3 linked regions of the Homo sapiens genome follow. The protein of the gene in region 3 interacts with the protein of the main gene of each other region in a biochemical or structural test. Each region holds a gene or a part of one and is shown on either strand. Other genes may lie near its edges.

Region 1 (7,032 bases), on a different chromosome or scaffold from region 3:
TGGCGGGCTCTGTTGATGAGTATGTATTAAACATTTTGTCTTTTGCTCTTTTGTCCCCTATGGTGTTACTAACATTAAGGTTTCAGCTGGTCAAACACTGAATTCCATCTCTAACTTTTGAGAAGCTGTAATGATTTAATCAGGTCCTTTTCACTTAATACCATCAGTTCTTATTGGACTTGTTGAATAATATGAGTCTGATTTTGGAACCTAACTTAAATTTCTTATTTCTAGTCAGCATCCATGAATTCACAGTAAAATGGAGTTTATTCTTACCTGAGTCCTAGGGCAAGCAACATTTCTTCTTTCTGATAAATCTTTAATGGAATCTGCCTTTGGAAAAATCTCTTACAAGTCTAAACCCCTTCTCTCTTAAGCAAGTTGCTTTTTAGCATAACAATAGATACCAAAAATTTATTGTATGAAGTTTCAGATAAATTAATTCAGTTTAAGCTTGAGTGAAAATTATTTACCATTCTATTAATCTCAAATTTCTTCTAGGCAGAACGCTTTGAGAGAAGTATATGCTCATGCAGTGCTTGGACAGCATTCTCATGTAGTTCGATATTTCTCTGCGTGGGCAGAAGATGATCATATGCTTATACAGAATGAATATTGTAATGGTGAGTGATGTAATGGTTTTCTTGTGAGCTTGAGAAAATGAACATCGAGGAAATATTTATGGTTATCTAAAATCTTGCTCTATTTCTGTCACTTTTATCTTTTATAAATTTAAAGATCAGAGACCTAACATAAATTTCAAGTACAAGGTTAAAAACCTTGTCCTTTCTGAAGCACCTTGTACATATCTCAGTAGTAGAACTTCGCATACTATTTATGTGCTTGTCGCTCCAACTGAGCTTTTTGACAAGACTATGGCCTCGACACATATATTTTGGTGTCCGTAGTACCTAGCGTAGTGTGTGAAGCATATAGTATTATGAAGTGTTAAGTTGAATAGATTCTTCCTGTGTCTGGTCTTTGATTTCCATTTCATGTGAGGTGCTGCTAAAACTGATGTTTGTTAGTCACTGAGTCTCTGTTGATCTAAATTCAGCTGTTTCTTTAAGCATTCTGTAGTCCGGCCCTACTCCCACGTATCCAACCTAGTCTACCCTAGAATCCACTAACGCTTTATTATGTTACATTCTTTTAGTTCTCTAGCTTGTCGTCTCTCCCTCCTCTCCCCTAAGGATGAAACAAAACAGGCATGTATAGATTCAAGTTTGGATGTCTTGTATAGCTTTCAGTTTCGGTAAGTCCTTCAAGGGCCGACTTATGTCTCTCCTTTTCTATTAAAAACCTTTACCAAAGTCTTGGTCAGAATTCTGGTTCTTATGGACGTCTGTCATTATTATATACCAAATCTTTTATGGATTATTTCTCAACACTTTTGTAGTTTATAAGTGTGATGATTGGGTTTTCATACTCAAGTGTGAAATGTGCCTCCCTCAAACCTTGTTACGACATCAGCACATTACCAGTCTGAAATGAAAAATATCTGTAGTTTGTTTCTATTTCTGTATATCTTCTGTGAATATAGACAATTTAGAGTTTAGTGAACACTTGAGAGGAGATAACAAAATTTATTTTTGTTGATTCTTATTATTCCTTAAATAAACAAGACCAGTTATCTCATAACTTGTAAATAAATAAGTGGTGTAGGTATGGATTCAGGTTCCCCATATTTAAAAACAGTGAACAAAACAGAAGTAAAAGATCCATTTTTCAAACCTGATTCCTCATTATTTAATAAAGTTCTCCACACTTGAAAGAACTTGAGTGTCTAGTATACAGCCTTGCTGCTAGTTTTTTTCACACAGCTCTTGAAATGTTTCTATTCATACCATCAAAATATTTATGTAACTATCACAACCTTATGGATTATTCTATTTCTTAACCTTCATTTTTCAGGTATTGCATTTAACCTAGAACAACTTGACCACAATGTCGTCTCCATTTGATATTTGTTAGACACCATCTCTTTTCAGTTTCCTTCTTTCTCTTTCTCACCTTCTTGATGTGAATAATTCTCTTAACAGAATAGTTCATTAGTAGTCCAGGAATGTCAAATATGTAGCAACCTACCAATACATGGTTGTGTAAATCAGATGATTCTGAGAAAACTCACGTGGGCCTGGGAGATAGGGAACTGAGTGAGTAGTCTTGCTACCCTCTCAGATTACAAAAACCTTGTCCTGTAATGTTAGATTATAAAATAATCTATTGAAAATAAGTTTTTATTTATTTATTTATTTATTTATTTATTTATTTATTTATTTTTGAGACAGAGCCTTGCTCTGTCGCCCAGGCTGGAGTGCAGTGGCGCAATCTCTGCTCACTGCAACCTTTGCCTCCAGGGTTCAAGCGATTCTCCTGCCTCAGCCTTTTGAGTAGCTGGGATTACAGATGCGCGCCACCACTCCCAGCTAATTTTTGTATTTTTAGTAGAGATGGGGTTTCACCATGTTGGCCAGGCTGGTCTTGAACCCTGACCTCGTGATCCACCTGCCTCGGCCTCTTAAAGCAATATAAAACTCTTGAAGAAAATAAATAGTCCTGCATGAAACAGGACTGCCTCTTTGTGTGGCTATTTGTCCTACTTAGATAAAAGAAAATACGACTATCTGGATGCATTTGTGATCTCTTTTGTTTCCTGTGTCCACCGTTCCTCTCTCCACATAAAGCTTTGAATATACCAATAGGGCTCATCTTCACATCTTTTCCACAGTTTCACTGGAAAAGGATTCTGATATTTATTTGTACATGAGTAACTGATTCCCTTTATTGTGATTTAATTTCCTTATTATCTTATTCATTTGCATTATAAGCCTTTTATCTTGGTTTGGTGATAGATTGGAATTAACCTGTATAAACAAGTGTAGAAAAATATTGATGGATAGGGAAAGAGAACCTGAAATGTCAGAACCTGTTTTGCTCTCATCACCTTTCTTGCCCTTCTAGCAATAAGAGAAGAAATGGGCACAGCTATGGTTGCTGGACCTGCTAAAAAAGAGAATTAGCCATATTCTTTCTTAGCACATTTGATCTAGGACTTAGCCTATCTTGTCTGACAGCGTTATTGGTTTGCTCCCTTCTAGAGCACTCTTTCCCCTCCCTCAGTTCAAGATTTGTACAAGTAAGGAGAACATACTTAAGACTAAGATACCGAGATGTATAATTTATTTTAAAAACACATTTGACGTTATGTTATTTTCTTATTTAAATTATAGGACCTCCTTTTCTGACTAATACATCATTGACCTTCCTAATTTTAGTACCCAGCTCTGATTTTTTTATTCCTAAGCCTTAAACAGGAGATATTTAAAACAATTCCTCATTGCCTTTGAGATGAAATACAAACTTTAAAAGTTTGAAAAAATATAAACAAATTAACTGATTGATTTAACTAATTCTATAAAAGCAGGTTATGGTCTCATTCATAGTAAGAGTAGTATAAATTATAACTATACTAAAATACTGTCTTTTTACCTATAACATTTATAGACTTGTCAAGGGTATGGGGAAACAGGTATGCTCATGCATTGACAATGGGCATATATATTGGTACAGCCTTCTCTGTGGAGAAGAGTGTGTGTGTGTGTGTGTGTGTGTGTGTAAAACACACCATCTCCATATATTACAAATGTGCATACCCTTTAACCCAGCAATTTGGCTTCTAGGTGATATACTAAATGTACGTGAAATTACCAATGTACAAGGTTATTTATTAGGCCATAGTATGTAATAGCAAAGGCTTGGAAATAATTTTAAAATGTCCATCAAATGAGGGACTGATAAATGCATTTCTTTCTTTCTTTCTTTTTTTTTTTTTTTTTCGGGGGACTGAGTCTCACTCTGCCACCAGGCTGGAGTGCAATGGCCCGATATCGGCTCACTGCAACCTCCGCCTCCCAGGTTCAAGCAATTCTCCTGCCTTCTGAGTAGCTGGGATTACAGGTGCACGCCACCACACCCAGCTAATTTTTGTATTTTTAGTAGAAACGGGGTTTCGCCATGTTGGCCTGCATGGTCTCGAACTCCTGACCTCGTGATCTACCTGCCTCGGCCTCCCATAGTGCTGGGATTACAGGCGTGAGCCACTGTGCCCAGCCAATAAATGCATTTCTACTCAATTATACAATGGAATTCTATAAAGACAAGAAGAAATGGGTTGTCTTTGTATATTGGTATAGAGTGATCTTTAAGATAATGAACATATGCTGTTATTTATGCAAAAAGTTGAAAAGAATACATAGACCTGAGCTGGGCGTGGTGGCAGTGCCTGTAGTCCCAGCTGCTTGGGAGTCTGAAGCAGGGAATTTGAATTTGGGTTTGGGAATTCTAGGCTGTAGTGCCGATCTATGTTGAGCATCTATGCCGATCTATGCCGATCTAAGTTGAGCATCAGTATGGTGACCTCTGTGGAGTGGGGCACCACCAGGTTGCCTAAAGAGGGGTAAACTGGCCTAAGTTGGAAACAGCACAAGTCAAAACTCCTATGCTGATAAGTAGTGGGATCAAGCCTGTGAATAGCCACTGGATTCCAGCTGGGCAACATAGATAGACCCTGTCTCTTATAAATTAAAAACAAAAACAAACAAAAAAAAAGCCAACCTGATAATACTGGTTTACTCTGAGAAAGAAACAGGTGGATTGCTGAGGTGTATGATTGAGAGAGAGACTTTACATTTTATTTTGTACCCATGCAAATGTATTACCTATTGAAAAAACAATAAAATTTTGATTTCACAAGCAGGTTGAAGGGAGAAGGTCCTATAAAATAACACTTTCTTGGTTGAGATTGGTTGGTTGAGACTCATTTGGTAAAGATGGAAGAAAGAAAATATTTCAGAAAGAAGAAAATGCTAATATTTTCTATCTTTGTTAGGTGGAAGTTTAGCTGATGCTATAAGTGAAAACTACAGAATCATGAGTTACTTTAAAGAAGCAGAGTTGAAGGATCTCCTTTTGCAAGTTGGCCGAGGCTTGAGGTATATTCATTCAATGTCTTTGGTTCACATGGATATAAAACCTAGTAAGTATTGCAGATCTTCTGACCTGTGTTCTTTGGGGTTATAGAGAATAAATTACTTCATTATGACAACATTGAAAAAATATATATCTTCTGTTTTCTCATTGTTAGTTTTAAAAGGCCTTAGATCCACTTACCAATATTGTTTTATGATTTCTATTCATCTCTTCCCTTGTTAATCCCCAAAATTTGAGATAAACTTTTTTGAGACAGTGTCTCATTCTGTGGCCCAGGCCGGAATGCAGTGGCACCATCTCCGCTCACTGCAACTTCCCCATCCCGTGCTCAAGCAGTCATCCCACCTCAGTCTTCCGAGTAGCCGGGACTATAGGCATGTGCCACCATGCCCAGATAAATTCATTTTTATTAAAAGCCAGAAATTTTTGCTGCATCTTACAGGAACTACAGGTGGGATACTAATGAGGGCACTAAAAATCTGTGTTTAAAGCCCCACTCTTCCACTAGGCCAGACCATATTAAAATTTCCCCAGTTGACTCAAGTCCTTAATAGTTGATTTGTTCAAATTAGTATCTACTTAAGGATCATGCATTGCATCTGGTTATATCAGTTTTTCTTTTTCAGAACCCATCCTCTGCTTTGTAAAAATAATATACACTTATCTTGCAAGCTATCCCTTTTTCTGGATTTGACTAGTTGCTTCTTGTATCATTTAGCTTGTTCCTTTTTCTCCTATATTTCCTATAAATTGGAAGTTATAACTAAGGATTATGGATTCAAGTTAAGCATCTTAGGCTAGATGAATTTAGTGAGGTTTTATTAATCTTTGGAAACCTGTTGATTTGTGAGAATTTCAGTCATTTTGTACAACTTTATGAGTTATATGCTAGAATTTCATATGCGTATGTTAACAAGTCACTAAAGTTTCTTCTTTCTTTTTTTCTTTTTTTGAGATGGAGTCTCGCTCTGTTGCCCAGGCTGGAGTGCAGTGGCACAGTCTCAGCTCTCTGTAACCTCTGCCTCCCACGTTCAAGCGATTCTCCTGCCTCCGCCTCCCGAGTAGCTGGGATTACAGGCATACACCACCATGCCCGGCTAATTTTTTGTATTTTTAGTAGAGACGGGTTTCACCATGTTGGCTAAGCTGGTCTTGAACTATTGACCTTGTGATCTGCCCACCATGGCCTCCCAAAGTGCTGAGATTACAGGCGTAAGCCACCGTGCCCAGCATGTTTTTTATTTTCAAAAGACAAAAATATATTTGGATTTAAGGCAGTAAATGTGAATTCTTAAGGAATAGCTGTACTCATATAAAGTGTTAGACAAATATAATAGACCCTTATAAGGTATAAAAGTTGAAAATATTAAGGGATGTGAAGTTTAAAAATCTTCAAATTTAGACCAGGTGCAGTGGCTGACGCCTGTAATCCCAGCACTCTGGCAGGCCAAGGCAGGCAGATCACGAGGCAGGAGTTCGAGACCAGCCTGGCCAATATGATGAAACCCCGTCTCTACTAAAATTACAAAAATTAGCCAGGTGTAGTGGTGCGCACCTATAGTCCTAGTTACTCGGGAGGCTGAGGCAGAAGAATTGCTTGAACCCGGGAGGCGGAGGTTGCAGTGAGCCGAGATTGCACCATTGCACTCCATCCTAGGCAACAAAGTGAGACTCCGTCTCAAAAAAAGAAAAAAAAAATTCGCCGGGCGTGGTGCCTCACGCCTGTAATCCCAGCACTTTGGGAGGCTGAGGCGGGTGGATTGCCTAAGCTTGGGAGTTCACCACCAGCCTGGACAACACGGTGAAACCTCGTCTCTACTAAAATACAAAAAATTAGCTGGGTGTGGTGGCAGGCACCTGTAGTCCCAGCTACTCTGGAGGCTGAGGCAGGAGAATTGCTTGAACCCGGGAGGAGGAAGTTGAAGTGAGCTGAGATCGCACCACTGCACTCCAGCCTGGGCGACAGAGCGAGACTGTCTCAAAAAAAAAAAAAAAAAACCTTCCAATTTACAAATACCATCACAAAATAAGTTGTCCTAT
Region 2 (7,356 bases), on a different chromosome or scaffold from region 3:
AACTCACAAATTGGCTGGGCGCAGTGGCTCACACCTGTAATCCCAGCACTTTGCGAGGCCAAGGTGGGAGGACTGCTTAAGCCCAGGCGTTTGAGACCAGCCTGGGCAACAAAGCAAGACCCCGTTTCTTTGGAAAATTTTAAAATTAGGCTGGTGTGATGGCATGTGCCTATAGTCCCAGGTACTCAGGAGGCTGAGGTAGGAAGATCGCTTGAGCCTGGGAGTTCAAGACTGCAGTGAGCTATGACAGTGCCACTGCACTCTAGTCTGGATGACAGAGGATGACCCTGTCTCAAAAAAGAAAAAAAAAAAAGCAAACTCACAAATCTGTTCAAGGTGCAAAAACAACCTACCAGTGGCCAATCACCAACTCAGACCACCTACTTCCCTCACCAGTGATTAGGCTACAAAGCAGAGACTCTCAGAACATTCCTCCCATGATAGAAGCCTTCTGATACGCACCGACAGAGAGGTGAGGGGTTAGGGGGTGTTGATCTTGAAGAATGTTCTAGTTAGTCTCTTCATCTGACTTCTCCACTGGCTGGGCCTTGCTTGGCTGGTGAAATGTGAGCAGCTGATGGCAGCACAAGGTGGCCAGCCCAAAGCTCAAATTAACACTATGATTACTACCATGATTCTTAATAGCTGAAGAGAATTTCCACAGGATAAGGATTTATTGAACACACAAAAAAGATGGCATTAAGAATATTATACTAGTTTTTTGTTGTTGTTTTTGTTTTTGTTTTGAGACGGAGTTTCAATCTTGTCACCCAGGCTGGAGTGCAATGGCACCATCTCGGCTCACTGCAACCTCCACCTCCAGATTCAAGTGATTCTCCTGCCTCAGCCTCCCGAGTAGCTAAGATTACAGGTGCCTGCCACCGCGCCTGGCTAATTTTTGTATTTTTAGTAGAGCTGGGGTTTCACCATGTTAGCCAGGCTGGTCTCAAACTCCTTAGCCAGGCTGGTCTCAAGCTCCTGACCTCAGGTGATCCACCCGCCTTGGCCTCCCAAAGTGCTGGGATTACAGGTGTGAGCCACCACACCTGGCCCCAACTAATTTTTGTATTTTTAGTAGAGGTGGGGTTTTACCATGTTGGCCAGGCTGGTTTTGAACTCCTGACCTCAGGTGATCCGACCTCCTCAGCCTCTCAAAGTGCTGGGATTACAGGCGTGAGCTACTGCACCTGACCAGGAACCTTATGATTTTTAACAAGAAAAAATAATACAATACAATTCTAGGTAGGTGGAAAATACATCCATCATAGTTGAACTGATCTTCTCCTTTGATGTGGACAATGATCTAATACTGAAATAACAAGCATTATATTTCTTTCAGATGTTAAAGCATTGATTGTTTTTTGAAAGAAAGAAAGAATAATTCTGCATTATGGAACCAGTAGTAGGAATGTATGTAGGATAAGCATGACTAAAATATCAAAAAGATCTTTAATATGCAAAGCAAGTAGCAGTGCTAAAATAATTGAACAATTCTTGAGTATATATTTCCATATGATTTCTAAATATAATCATTTGGTATCTTTACAAACATTACTACAAGAGCATTCTACTCCTGTGTACTTGGCAGTTGTCAGAGTTACCTGTAGTGGTTTTTAAAATGACATCACATATTGGAGTTATCACACTGATTATAAAGAAATATATATATATATATAATATTGATATAGGAAAATTTCTCTGATTTACCATTGACTATCAATGTCCTCCAGGACTAATAAACAGTTAATGATAAATCAACTATGTCCATTCTAATGTGTAACTACAATCTAACTGTGTAGCTAAATGCAGTTTTTACTTCCAGTCATGAGGCCCAACTTTGAAGATAATCACTGAGAAAACATTCTAGGTATACTCAGCAATCAGGCAAAATGATGTAACGTATCTGAGTCAGAAAGTATGACAAATGAATATTTTTGCATACTGGAAGCCCAAGCTTATCTCAGAGAAAATCCCCAAAATACTTGGGCAAATAACTTTCTGATGAAGTCAAATATAGCATGCAGTATAATTTTTGAGTGGAGGACTAAGCCTATAATAAGAAGTAACCATTTGATATCACATTTTTACTGGATATAGTCGACTTGGGTGGGGCACTTTAGGACTGTGGTTCATTTGAATTGGTGTAAACAATACACCGGTTCTACTGTCCTACAGCCTCCATTCAGATGACTGAAGTCATGGGACTTTCAGCATAGCTAGCTGATGACAGTGCATACTATTTTGTCCCAAAATCCAGTTCAAGCATGGACATACCAATAAGAGCCTAAGCTCTTTAAAGGCAAAGGACCAGGAATTGTACAGTTCTTGGTATAGAAGAAGACAGGCAAAAGTGTTTTTGAACTAACGTTAAATGTGCAATATGTTAGAATTCATGCAATGCACAGGACTGCAGGATTCTGATATCTTATTTAACTCTCAAATTCTATTCAACTCAATAAACCTTGACTGTGCTTCTACTAAATGCAGGTATTGTACTAGGAGCTGAGGACACCAAACTGATGAAGTCCTTGCTGTCAAGAAACTCACATGATTCCCTAATTCTTTGTCAGCTTGCTGTGATCACATTTTCTTCCCAAGAACCTCTAAGAAATGCCTAGTGGATAGAACCTTGGAGTTCCACGGAACATATTAACAATCGCCAAATGATGACTCAGGCTAGATTGTGTAATTCAGGTTTTGTCTGCAAAACTGAAAATGCTTCGGTAACCTACCTAAATTTCAATGTTGAGGAATTCTTTAAGAAAGACATCAAATGTTAAGATTTAAGGCATAGATATGAGATACATAGTCATGCTTAGGTGAATTATGCACTGACCATGACCATTTCTTTACTCAAATGTTGTCCATGGCTGACAACACAGTGAAAAAATGAGTGCAAAATGACAACTCAAATAAATGAACCAGAAAACCTATCACTTTTCTTTTCCACCAAATTAAGATCAAGAGAGCTGGAGAATATTTTGTCTAGAGTGATAAAAACATAAGGGTGCAAAACTTCCAGGTACCTTTGCAGAAATTACTTCTGTGACCTTTGGCTGTACAGCAACCTTAATAATGCAAGCACTGTTTTGAATGCAAGCATGTGGGAGCCATTTTCACCACTTTTGATGACTTCAGTAGGTTTAAGAAATGTTTTTGCTTTTATTGCATAAACCATAAAACAAAGGAAGGGACTTTTGAACTACTCAGTGAGAGTCTATATATTAAAGTTTGTTTTTCAAAAATGTGTAACTACCATTTGCAGTTTTAAAGGTCTGCTTTCCACCTACAAGTTGCCATTATCTCAAAGGTGAAATTTTAGCATATGACTAAAAACTTCCTATAGTTACAGCTTCATGATTCAGCATCTAACATCAATAATTCACAGTGAGATCATAGGAGGCTCTCTGTGGAAGGTAACGACATACATACGTTAGGAAAGGAAGCTTAGGGCATATCGAGAGCATTTTGAATTTAGACTTGTGGGCTGTGTGGGTGTCAGATGGTTGTCTCTCAGCTGGTGGGCGTCCAGAAGGATCCTTGTTTGGGCAAGGCTCTTTGAGAAAGGAGAATCTGGGTTGCCAGGGATTCCCACATGTGGTCACCAGCTCCCCACGCAGACCAGCTCACGATTTCCCAGTTACACCGGGCAGGTGGGAAACCGTTCTGCTTTCTGTGGAAAAGATTCTAACTTGGTTCCCTGCCATCCCTGAATACAAACGGGTTGGTTTTTCTTTTTTCAGCTTCCAACCCTTGCAGCTTTCCAAAAATAAATCAAACCAGCCATCAGGGCACCGAAATAATACTACTGCTAATAAGCAGCTTCGCCTAGACTTAGATAAACAACACTTCTGAGGTAAACTTTGCCCCGGAGGTCTGGAGACACTTTTTTAATGTAACCTGCTTACTAATAATTACTAGACTTCAGTGCATTAACCCTGGAAATAGATTTTAATAGCCACCCCTTAAAACAAAAGACATGAAAAGATAATAAGAAAAAAGTGCCGCAACTATTATAGAAAAACACTTGGCAGCCTGCTTCAGCCCAAGCTGAGGCCACCTCTAGCCTCTGCTAAAGCCCCCCACTCCCAATGGTCCCCGCCAACCGGATAAGAGTGCGCGCGGGACCCGCCTTCCCCTCTCGGCACCGCCCCCGCCCCCGCCCCCTCGGCTCGCCTCCCGCGTGGCTCCTCCCTTTTCCGCTCCTCTCAACCTGACTCCAGGAGCTGGGGTCAAATTGCTGGAGCAGGCTGATTTGCATAGCCCAATGGCCAAGCTGCATGCAAATGAGGCGGAAGGTGGTTGGCTGAGGGTTGGCAGGATAACCCCGGAGAGCGGGGCCCTTTGTCCTCCAGTGGCTGGTAGGCAGTGGCTGGGAGGCAGCGGCCCAATTAGTGTCGTGCGGCCCGTGGCGAGGCGAGGTCCGGGGAGCGAGCGAGCAAGCAAGGCGGGAGGGGTGGCCGGAGCTGCGGCGGCTGGCACAGGAGGAGGAGCCCGGGCGGGCGAGGGGCGGCCGGAGAGCGCCAGGGCCTGAGCTGCCGGAGCGGCGCCTGTGAGTGAGTGCAGAAAGCAGGCGCCCGCGCGCTAGCCGTGGCAGGAGCAGCCCGCACGCCGCGCTCTCTCCCTGGGCGACCTGCAGTTTGCAATATGACTTTGGAGGAATTCTCGGCTGGAGAGCAGAAGACCGAAAGGTGAGTCGGCCTGCGGACTCTTCCGGCCCGAACTTCTCTTACCTACCCCGCGCTCCCCGGTGCAGCCGGGCTGTGGAAGGCTTGCAGGGGAGGAAGCTAAAAAGTTTGCACAGGGCAACTCCCGCCCTTGCTCCCTCGGGACTCTCCGTGGAGCTCCCACGGACTGAAAGAGCGTGCCCCCCAACCCGAACGAGCCCCGCCGGGGCCTTTGCAAAGGGCAGCAGTGGCCGTCGCTGCCCGTGCGGCTCCCGTGGCTGGCAGCCTGTGGCAGGGGCACTCTCGGGACTTCTCACGGGACGCCCGGTCCTTGGGCGTGCAGGGGTCATGGGGGGTGACGGGGCCGCGGGAGCGCCGGGTTTTCGTAGAGCCCAGGTGCGCGGTGGTGCTTGCATTCGAGAGGGAGGGGCGTGGTACCGGACGAGGGGGGCGGCGATGGCCCCGAGGGCACCGGGGCTGACGGGACCCCTCGCCCTTGCCCGCGTGTAGGATGGATAAGGTGGGGGATGCCCTGGAGGAAGTGCTCAGCAAAGCCCTGAGTCAGCGCACGATCACTGTCGGGGTGTACGAAGCGGCCAAGCTGCTCAACGTGTAAGTGGGGCCCTTGCGCGTCCCCCATGGCACCCCTTCCCGCCCCAGCCCGGGAGGTCGCCTTGGCTGGGCGCCCCTCGCCCGGCCGCGCCACTTCCTGTCGCTTTTCTGCCTGTCTCGGAAGGGAGGGGGCGAGCGGGCCGGGCGGCGACCCCCAGGGACCCGGGCAGTGGTTGAGGGCGCCCGCGCTTCTGCGCTCACTGGCCCCGCCCGCTGCCCCCAGCGACCCCGATAACGTGGTGTTGTGCCTGCTGGCGGCGGACGAGGACGACGACAGAGATGTGGCTCTGCAGATCCACTTCACCCTGATCCAGGCGTTTTGCTGCGAGAACGACATCAACATCCTGCGCGTCAGCAACCCGGGCCGGCTGGCGGAGCTCCTGCTCTTGGAGACCGACGCTGGCCCCGCGGCGAGCGAGGGCGCCGAGCAGCCCCCGGACCTGCACTGCGTGCTGGTGACGGTAAGGGACTGGGGGACTGCAGCCTGCAGGGTAGAGCCCCGGAAGGACGGGAGTCAGGGCTGGGTTGCCTGATTGTGGATCTGTGGTAGGTGGGGGTCAGGAGGGTGGCTGCCTTTGTCCGACTAGAGTGTGGCTGGACTTTCAGCCGAGATGTGCTAGTTTCATCACCAGGATTTTCTGTGGTACAGAACATGTCTAAGCATGCTGGGGACTGCCAGCAGCGGAAGAGATCCCTGTGAGTCAGCAGTCAGCCCAGCTACTCCCTACCTACATCTGCACTGCCTCCCGTGACTAATTCCTTTAGCAGGGCAGATTAGATAAAGCCAAATGAATTCCTGGCTCACCCCTCATTAAGGAGTCAGCTTCATTCTCTGCCAGTCAGAGCTAAAAATAGAAATTGTGTAGGAGACAAACCTTGTTAATTCCCTAGAAATACATTAAGAGGATAGAGTGGAATTTTTTTTCTCTGCAATCTTGCATTTTTTTAATGGCTCTTTTTTTTTTTCCTGATAAAAACCTTTGGTAGGTAGGGAAGTTATGTTTTCAGGGGTAAATGTGCTACTTTTGTCTTCTAAATTTTGCTCTTTTTTGACTGGTCTAGTCAAGTGACAGCCCGATTATTTTGCTACTCCTTAAAAGTACTATTCTGTCTCTTGGAGTATGGTTGATGGCAATTCCAGTTAACTGCTGTGCAGCTCTCATCTCATTGTGCACACAGCATGGAAATCTTTCTCAAAACTGTTTCACTCAGGTCAGGGTAACAAGTTTGGTAGAGCAAACCGGTGAATGATACTCTCATGCAAAACTGAACAGATATGCAAACATATGTATGTGGTTCAGCTTGGGTTGCATGGGTTCAGACTTTGCAATGTGTAGTTTAATAGGTAATTACCCTTAACGCTTTTGCAGGGAACCCAACTACCTTGAAGAAACTTTAATTTTTTTGTGCTTCTAATTTGTCTCCATGTCACATAGCCAAAATATAGAATGTTCAAGTGTTTTCTCCTCAAAAGTATAATTACTAGAATATACTGGTTTTTAAAATAAGTTTATTTTTATAAATTTGTTTCCAGAATCCACATTCATCTCAATGGAAGGATCCTGCCTTAAGTCAACTTATTTGTTTTTGCCGGGAAAGTCGCTACATGGATCAATGGGTTCCAGTGATTAATCTCCCTGAACGGTGATGGCATCTGAATGAAAATAACTGAACCAAATTGCACTGAAGTTTTTGAAATACCTTTGTAGTTACTCAAGCAGTTACTCCCTACACTGATGCAAGGATTACAGAAACTGATGCCAAGGGGCTGAGTGAGTTCAACTACATGTTCTGGGGGCCCGGAGATAGATGACTTTGCAGATGGAAAGAGGTGAAAATGAAGAAGGAAGCTGTGTTGAAACAGAAAAATAAGTCAAAAGGAACAAAAATTACAAAGAACCATGCAGGAAGGAAAACTATGTATTAATTTAGAATGGTTGAGTTACATTAAAATAAACCAAATATGTTAAAGTTTAAGTGTGCAGCCATAGTTTGGGTATTTTTGGTTTATATGCCCTCAAGTAAAAGAAAAGCCGAAAGGGTTAATCATATTTGAAAACCATATTTTATTGTATTT
Region 3 (7,452 bases):
TCACTGCCTTGTTCACATTTTTTTGTTCAAGTCCAACGTCTAATCCAAAACTTTTAGCATGACCTTGAACATTACCTTCAAGGTATAGATATTATTTAACTACCTAGCCTAATGTTTATGACCCTTGCTGAGCACCCAGATTCTGTTTATGTTCAGCGTACTGAATTAATTTCAGTCTACAAACTTGCATTGTTCTTTCTTGTCAATGGATCAAGCTCTCCACCTTCATTTGTCTTCTTGGCAAACTCTTTTTATTCCTTAAGACTCAGTTCAGTCAACTTTGCTATGAAGCCTTGCCTGATGCCCTCTCCACTATGTTCTGCACACAGCAGTCTTCACCATATTGCATTGTAAACATTTGCACCCCACCTAGGTGGAAGATCCACAGCTACTCACCTGTTATCCTTGATCCTCATTAGTCCCAAGGTTGACATATGAATCTCTTCTCCCTACACCATGCCCAGTTTCTAAAATTCCAATGAGAGATTAAGGTGGGTTGACATGTATGCATTTAAAGTACAACTACCAACAGGTTTAAAGTGATCTCTTTCTCTTTTTGTGGGGCGAGAATGAAGATAGGGGGCATGGAGGTTGTATATGACAAACTTTTATTATCTGTATTTTACACTTTGGATTATTTCTTAAAATTTACAGAAAAATCACATTACTTTTATAATCAGAAAAACACCCAACTCTGTCATAGCAACGATAGTTCAGTATTTTCACTTGTGGTGAAAAGACCTGAATCTATATATCTTGTATTTTCTGTCACTTTCCTTTCTGAATTAACATGAAAAAGGATAAATCTTCTTCTTTTGCATACATTTTCCGGCAACTTTTAAATTTTTTTTTTCTTTTTATATATTTGTCTGTATAGAGACAGGGTCTTACTATGTTGCCAAGCTGGCCTCAAACTCCTGGCCTCAAGGGATCCTCCACCTTGGCCTCCCAAAGTGCTGGGATTACAGGTGTGAGCCACTGTGCCTGGCCAATTTTTACCATTTTTATCCAGTAGCAATGGAGGCCTTGGCAAGACTGATTCATTCATTCATTTATTTATTCGTTCATTTTTGGGCTAGGGTAGTACATTCACGTGGCTCAATATTCAAAAGATACAAAACTCTCCTTTCCACCTCTGTACCAGGTCACTCTTGTATTCCACAGAGGGCACATTTTTATTAGTTTCTTCCACCTCCTTCCCGAAGTGTATTTTCTTTTCTTTTCTTTTTTTTTTAGAAGGAGTCTCGCTCTATCACTAGGCTGGAGTGCAGTGGCGCCATCTCGGCTCACTGCAACATTCGCCTCCAGGGTTCAAGCGATTCTCCTGACTCAGCCTCCCGAGTAGCTGGGATTACAGGCATGTGCCACCACGCCCAGCTAATTTTTGTATTTTTAGTAGAGATGGGTTTTCACCACGTTGGCCAGGATGGTCTCGATCTCCTGACAACGTGATCCACCCGCCTTGGCCTCCCAGAGTGCTGAGATTATAGGCGTGAGACACCGCGCCCGGCCCGGAGGTGTATTTTCAAGCAAATGTTCTCACATTTTTCTTATCTAAAAAAAACACTTGTCTTGACCTGGGCTGCCATAACAAAATGCCATAGACTACGTGCCTTAAACAACAAAATTTTATTTTCACTCAGTTCTGGAGGCTTGGTGTGCAAGTTCAGAGGGCGGGCAACATCAGGTTCTGGCAAGGGCTGACTTCCTCACTGACAGGTGCCTTCTCATTCTAACCTCACATGAGAGCAACCAAGCTCTTCAGCGTCTCTTCTTATAAGAGCACTAATTCCATCACGAGGGCCCCACCCTCATGTCCTCATCTAAACCTAATTACCTCCCAAAGCCTCATCTCCAAACACCATCCCAGTGGGGTGAGGCCTTCAACGTATGAATTAGCGGGGTGGGGGGACAACAAACATTCAGACCATAGAAATACGTAAATATAAGAAACAAAACCAAAAAGACTTATGTGCAATACCAACTGATCTTTTCTTTTCCTTCCAAAATGGAGTTTACCAAAATACAAATATGAAGTTTTTCAGAGCACATACCTTCCCCTGCTCTCCTCTGCAGTTTTTTTTTTTTTAATACCACCTCTAGGGTAGTTTTCCTAAAATATGGTTCCAAGGCTGTGTGTACCTCTCCTGCTCAGATCCTTTGGAACAGTGTTCAGCGCTCATCAGGATTCTGACTGTAAACTCCCTTCTCTGACTTTAACATCACAGGATGCAGTACTCCCTACATTCTACCATGGGGGGCACCCTGAATTACCTGGGTTGACTTTCTGGCCTCTGTGCTCTACTTATACAATTTCCTCTGTATGGAAGGCCCACTCCAGAATCCTTTCCCCAGCCTTTGTTCAAATGTCACTTCTGCTAGCATTAGCAGTTTCCTCCTCTGGGTTCTCACATTGCCCTGTAACATAAGTTACAAGGTAAGTACCAGAAGAGAATTCCCAATTATCATCCTGCTCCCCTACCCTCAACACCTCCAGCGGTAACTGTATCTTATTCATTTTTGTGTCTATGAAGCACAGTGTTGCACTTTGGAGATACTACATAGAAGTTGGCCCAAAGGGTAATAAACTGTATTTGCCAAGATGATAGCATGGATTTACAATAACCTCTGAAACTTTATAAAGAAAGATGATTGAGTTAAATTGATACACCTAGCATCACAGCTGTGGAAGCTTGTGGTCTTCTTTATGTTAAAGGTAAAATGGATATAATGAATTAGTTGCCATTTTTAGATGATATAGAAGTTGAATTCCTCTTAAGCCTCTCAAAGAGAAAGACATATTAAAATTCATTAAAACCAGTACCATAAACTGCACAGAACAGCCTGGTTCCCTAGAGCACTTCTCTGGGGCAGTGAGTTTTCATTTAAAAAATGAAGTTTGGATTTTAAACATAAGTTTTAAAAGTGATTAGGCTCCAGCAGGAGTTCTTAAATTCCTACCTACACCATGACTCCCAAATGCTCTGCCTCTGTTGCCTAGGAACAAAAATTGTCAAGGTTGAGCCAGATGCAATGTATAACACCAGATGATAGATGCAGCTCATTGTGTTAAAAGGTGTTAAACACTTAAGTGCATGTGATATACTCTATATCACAAGGGTAAGGAAGTTCCATTCCATATCCTGATTTGGGTCTTCTAATACATACTTGTAGTGGATGTGGTAATCAGTCTTTGTTCTATGTCCCATTAGGATCAATGCAACCAGAAATCCTTAAAATGGATTTTTATTATGTCTAGCTCTGTTTTACTGTTCTATTTGTTTATTTTAAAAAGATTTTAGAATGGTGTTTAGGTTGGGCTGGTGGCTCACGCCTGTAATCTCAGCACTTTGGGAGGCCAAGGCAGGAGGATTGCTGGAGCCTAGGAGTTGGAGACCAGCTAGGGCAACATAAGGAGACATTGTCTCCGCAAACAAACAGAAAAAAAAAAAGTAAGAAAGAAAGAGAGAAAGAAGGAAAGAACAAGAAAAAGGAAAAAAAAATTAACTGCAGTAAGTGCAGAAATCTCTCTCAAGGATATGATGGATGGCAATGAAGACAGAGTTTTTGACACTGGATTATTTAAAGCATAATTTAAGCCTCTTTCTCTCCCCTCATAGAATTGTGAATTTTTGTGTTTTAATTATATTTAAGCCAGGCGTGGTGGCGAGTGCCTGTAGTCGCAGCTGCGCTGGAGGCTGAGGCCGATTGCTTGAGCCCAGGATTTGGAGGCCAGCATGCGCAACATAATGAGACCCAGTCTCTAAATGCATGCCTCTCTCTATATATTTAAAATTCTGATGTGAAAATATTTTAAAATTTAATACATTTCAAATGTTTTTAATTGTATAATAAACAAAATGTAAATAATAAAATAATTTAATATTAAATTCAAAAATGAGGTAGAAACAAAGCACAGCGATATAAATAATAAATTTTCCTTTACATTTTTGAGGCGGTCTTTTGAGTTTTCCATTTCCTTCTTAAGGTCACTGAAATGTGCTCCTTGGAGCCAGCCCGCAAATCACGCATTTAGAAAAACATAACTATACACTCCTAACCCTAAGTATTAGAAGTGAAAGTAATGGAATCTCGATGTAAACACAATATCACTTTTTTGATGAGCTATTTTGAGTATAATAAATTTGAACTGTGCCAATGCTGGGAGAAAAAATTTAAAAGAAGAACGGAGCGAACAGTAGCTTCCTGCTCCGCTGACTAGAAACAGTAGGACGACACTCTCCCGACTGGAGGAGAGCGCTTGCGCTCGCACTCAGTTGGCGCCCGCCCTCCTGCTTTTTCTCTAGCCGCCCTTTCCTCTTTCTTTCGCGCTCTAGCCACCCGGGAAGGCCTGCCCAGCGTAGCTGGGCTCTGATTGGCTGCTTTGAAAGTCTACGGGCTACCCGATTGGTGAATCCGGGGCCCTTTAGCGCGGTGAGTTTGAAACTGCTCGCACTTGGCTTCAAAGCTGGCTCTTGGAAATTGAGCGGAGAGCGACGCGGTTGTTGTAGCTGCCGCTGCGGCCGCCGCGGAATAATAAGCCGGGTACAGTGGCTGGGGTCAGGGTCGTGTCTAGGGGACGGCCGAGGGCCTCGGAGGGCGAGTATTGAGGAACGGGGTCCTCTAAGAAGGCCGGACTGGAGGTCAGGGATCTGCGCGGGGCCCGGCTGGGCCTCGGGGGGCGGTGGGCAGGGCCTTCGCCTGGGTCTGGCCGTGTGAGCCACACTGGGCTGGCTTTAGAGGGAGGCTATGGGAGCCCAGCCTGGCGGGGTTAGGCGGCGTGGGGGTGGGGGTTCGGGGCTGCAGTCATGAGTCGAGGTCGGCTGTTCTCAGGAACTGCCTGAAGAGGCTTTCGGGTCTTGATTGAAGCAAAATCCGCTCCCCCACGCTGAGCGCCTGCGGAGTAGCAGGCTCTTTCCTGGGCCCGGCCCCTGCGCGCCCTGCCATCCCGCCTCGGGGGTGGGAAAGTGGGACCGCACCTGGGCCAGGTACAGGCGCGGGTCCCTAGAGCCAGGCCGCCCTGAGAAACCGATCCTGGAACTCGTGGGCCTTCTTGGGCTTGCTCTGCCCACGGCCCCGGCCCACCTGGAGCTGTTAAGAACAGTCAGCCCAGGCACTTAACTCTCATGAGCAGTGTAGTGCAGTTTTTTTCATTTAAAAAGATACATCTCTGCTTCTTTCTGGATTGATTTTTCTTTGAAGATGAATGTGAGAAATAGAACTTAAAGGTCTATTCTGAGTGTGCTTTATAAATGATTTTATCATCAGTGATGGGTGTTAGAAAAATCTAGGTAATTATGCCTGGAGTTCTGACGTTTCATTGGCAAACTTCAGAGGAAGTCTTGAACTTCTGGTTGTCAGCTTTTTTTTTTAACCCATTCATTGTGATTCAAGTATACCGTTTTTCTGCTTAGTCCTTGACATTGTTTAGGTTATAATTAGAATTTTATCTGTGGAATTGCACTTTTCATTCTTTTGTTTTACGGTGCTTAAGTGATATTTCCTACTCTTGGAAAAAGTACCTTGAAAGTCTTGAGCATGTTTGTCTGTGACCTCAGCAAGCAGAGGAAAAAGATTAAAATTGTCACGTGGGCAACTGTAAACACTTAAAATGTTTTTGTCGTTTTAAACAAAATTTTCCTAATGAACAGTCTGAACACATTTTAGTTCTGTCCTCATAACTTTAAAAAATAATGTTTTGAATAAAATTAGGAGTATCATAAAGCGGTATAAATTTGTTGAAATATTTGGGTATAACTTTGGCACACGCAGGTACTACTTTAAAGTGTCACAAAAAGGGAACATAATTCTGGTTTTTGTTTGGAAAGAATAGACAAGTTGATACCTGAATTTGAGGGTTATTTTGATTGGAAGAAGCTAAATACTACACTAGTATAGAATATACACGTTTCCAATGTCTCAGGAGTCAAGAAGGATGGAAAGTTATTGTAGGAGTCCTTACCCTTGTAAATATTGTTTGAATGTAATTAATATTTATGGAATACTTATGCTGCAGTAGGCACTGTGGAAAATGCTTTACATATAGTGTTTCATTAATGCTTAAAACTACTCGAGTTAGTGGCATGTAATTAAGTCAGTTTTTCCTTCACTTTAGGATCTACCATACCCATTGACTAACTATGGAAGATTATACCAAAATAGAGAAAATTGGAGAAGGTGAGTGGTTTTAGTAAAATAAATTTTATGGAATGATTTAACAATGCTACAACTTCTGTAATATGAACACATTTAAATATTTATTAAAATTCAACCATTAAGTTGTCTTGTAGTACCAGTGTGCATTAACATATGTTCTTTACTTAATAAACGCAAATTTGCTCACATTTCAAGAGAATTGAAATTACCGAATCCCTAATGACCGTTCGCCTCACCCCCATAGTCTTACAGTCTTCTGATACTAAACACTTATAGTAGTACTTGTATTTTGAAGACACTATTGATAACTTGCATGTGTGTTGAGGGGCAGAGGTTAGGGCTGCAGAATTATGCTAACTTCATAATATATTTTTAGTTTTAGTCTCTTTCAATTGTTTTTAGGATGATAAATATTTTTATCCAGACTTTATAGACTGGTTACAATAATTGACTTAATCTAATTTAAATAAAATTTCTATTTAGTTACCCTAAGTATAAATGACCTGTCATATAGACATGTTTAAGCTATTCTAAAATTATAACTTATGTATATAATCCTTCCCTTTCTGTGGTACTTGAAGGAATGTTTAGATCTATATATGGCACAAATGAGGGGTATATCCCTTCGCCTGTTCCTCGACTCCAGCAGAACATTCTCGATTCTCCAGGTACAAAATAATTTGCTAATAGAATCCAGTTTATATAGGTTCTGCCAGAAGAAAATTCCCAACTATATTTTTAATGTGATCAAAGACCCCACTTGACAAGAAATAGTGAAAAACAAGGGGGAATACTGGAGGGAATTTAGTGGAATAGGAGTGACAAGTTAGTGTGGTGTTCGATTGGAGGTGTGTGTGTGTATACATATATATATATATTTTTTTTTTAAATCACTTAAATACCTCATACCCATTCTACTAAACAAATTTTGCTGCTGAATTAAAAATATGTGATTAGTATGTCTAATGCTGTGTAGTGTGTTTCTTAAATTCCCAGAGAATTTGTGTTGGTTTTAGTTTGGCATAAAAAGAGACCTTCTTAAAGTATAAATATATTTTTCTTTAAGATGATAGAACTCCAAACATACAGGAGACTGCAGATTTGACTTCTGAGAAAAGTACTTTAATTGCTACTAGAAATAGGAGCAGTTAAAAGAATGTAATTTTAAATTTAATCCATTACATACATGTAAGTCATAAGACTTCCATTCTTTATTTCTAGCAGTGTGACAGTGGTAAACCCTCTTAACTTTTCTGGATCTCAGTTTCTGCCTCTGCAAATGGTGATAATTGGACT

What was found. Proteins that work in one complex are often made in the same cells at the same time.
Region 1: of the proteins of CDK1 (region 3) and WEE1, one has a biochemical effect on the other in vitro, tested with the Homo sapiens proteins (5 studies listed by BioGRID, with this or other methods).
Region 2: the proteins of CDK1 (region 3) and GADD45A form a complex in vitro, tested with the Homo sapiens proteins (5 studies listed by BioGRID).

What each region holds. Positions count from the first base shown.
Region 1 is NC_000011.10:9,576,641-9,583,672, forward strand, and holds part of WEE1 (wee1-like protein kinase), read left to right. Parts: coding exon 1-19; intron 20-501; coding exon 502-623; intron 624-1,387; exon of another isoform or gene 1,388-1,491; intron 1,492-4,891; coding exon 4,892-5,038; intron 5,039-7,032. UniProt on the Homo sapiens protein: Acts as a negative regulator of entry into mitosis (G2 to M transition) by protecting the nucleus from cytoplasmically activated cyclin B1-complexed CDK1 before the onset of mitosis by mediating phosphorylation of CDK1 on 'Tyr-15'.
Region 2 is NC_000001.11:67,680,848-67,688,203, forward strand, and holds the start of GADD45A (growth arrest and DNA damage-inducible protein GADD45 alpha), read left to right. Parts: upstream 1-4,353; 5' UTR 4,354-4,647; coding exon 4,648-4,691; intron 4,692-5,177; coding exon 5,178-5,279; intron 5,280-5,502; coding exon 5,503-5,740; intron 5,741-6,813; coding exon 6,814-6,927; 3' UTR 6,928-7,356. UniProt on the Homo sapiens protein: In T-cells, functions as a regulator of p38 MAPKs by inhibiting p88 phosphorylation and activity.
Region 3 is NC_000010.11:60,774,026-60,781,477, forward strand, and holds the start of CDK1 (cyclin-dependent kinase 1), read left to right. Parts: upstream 1-4,452; 5' UTR 4,453-4,545; exon of another isoform or gene 4,546-4,643; intron 4,644-6,115; 5' UTR 6,116-6,140; coding exon 6,141-6,177; intron 6,178-7,452. UniProt on the Homo sapiens protein: Plays a key role in the control of the eukaryotic cell cycle by modulating the centrosome cycle as well as mitotic onset; promotes G2-M transition via association with multiple interphase cyclins.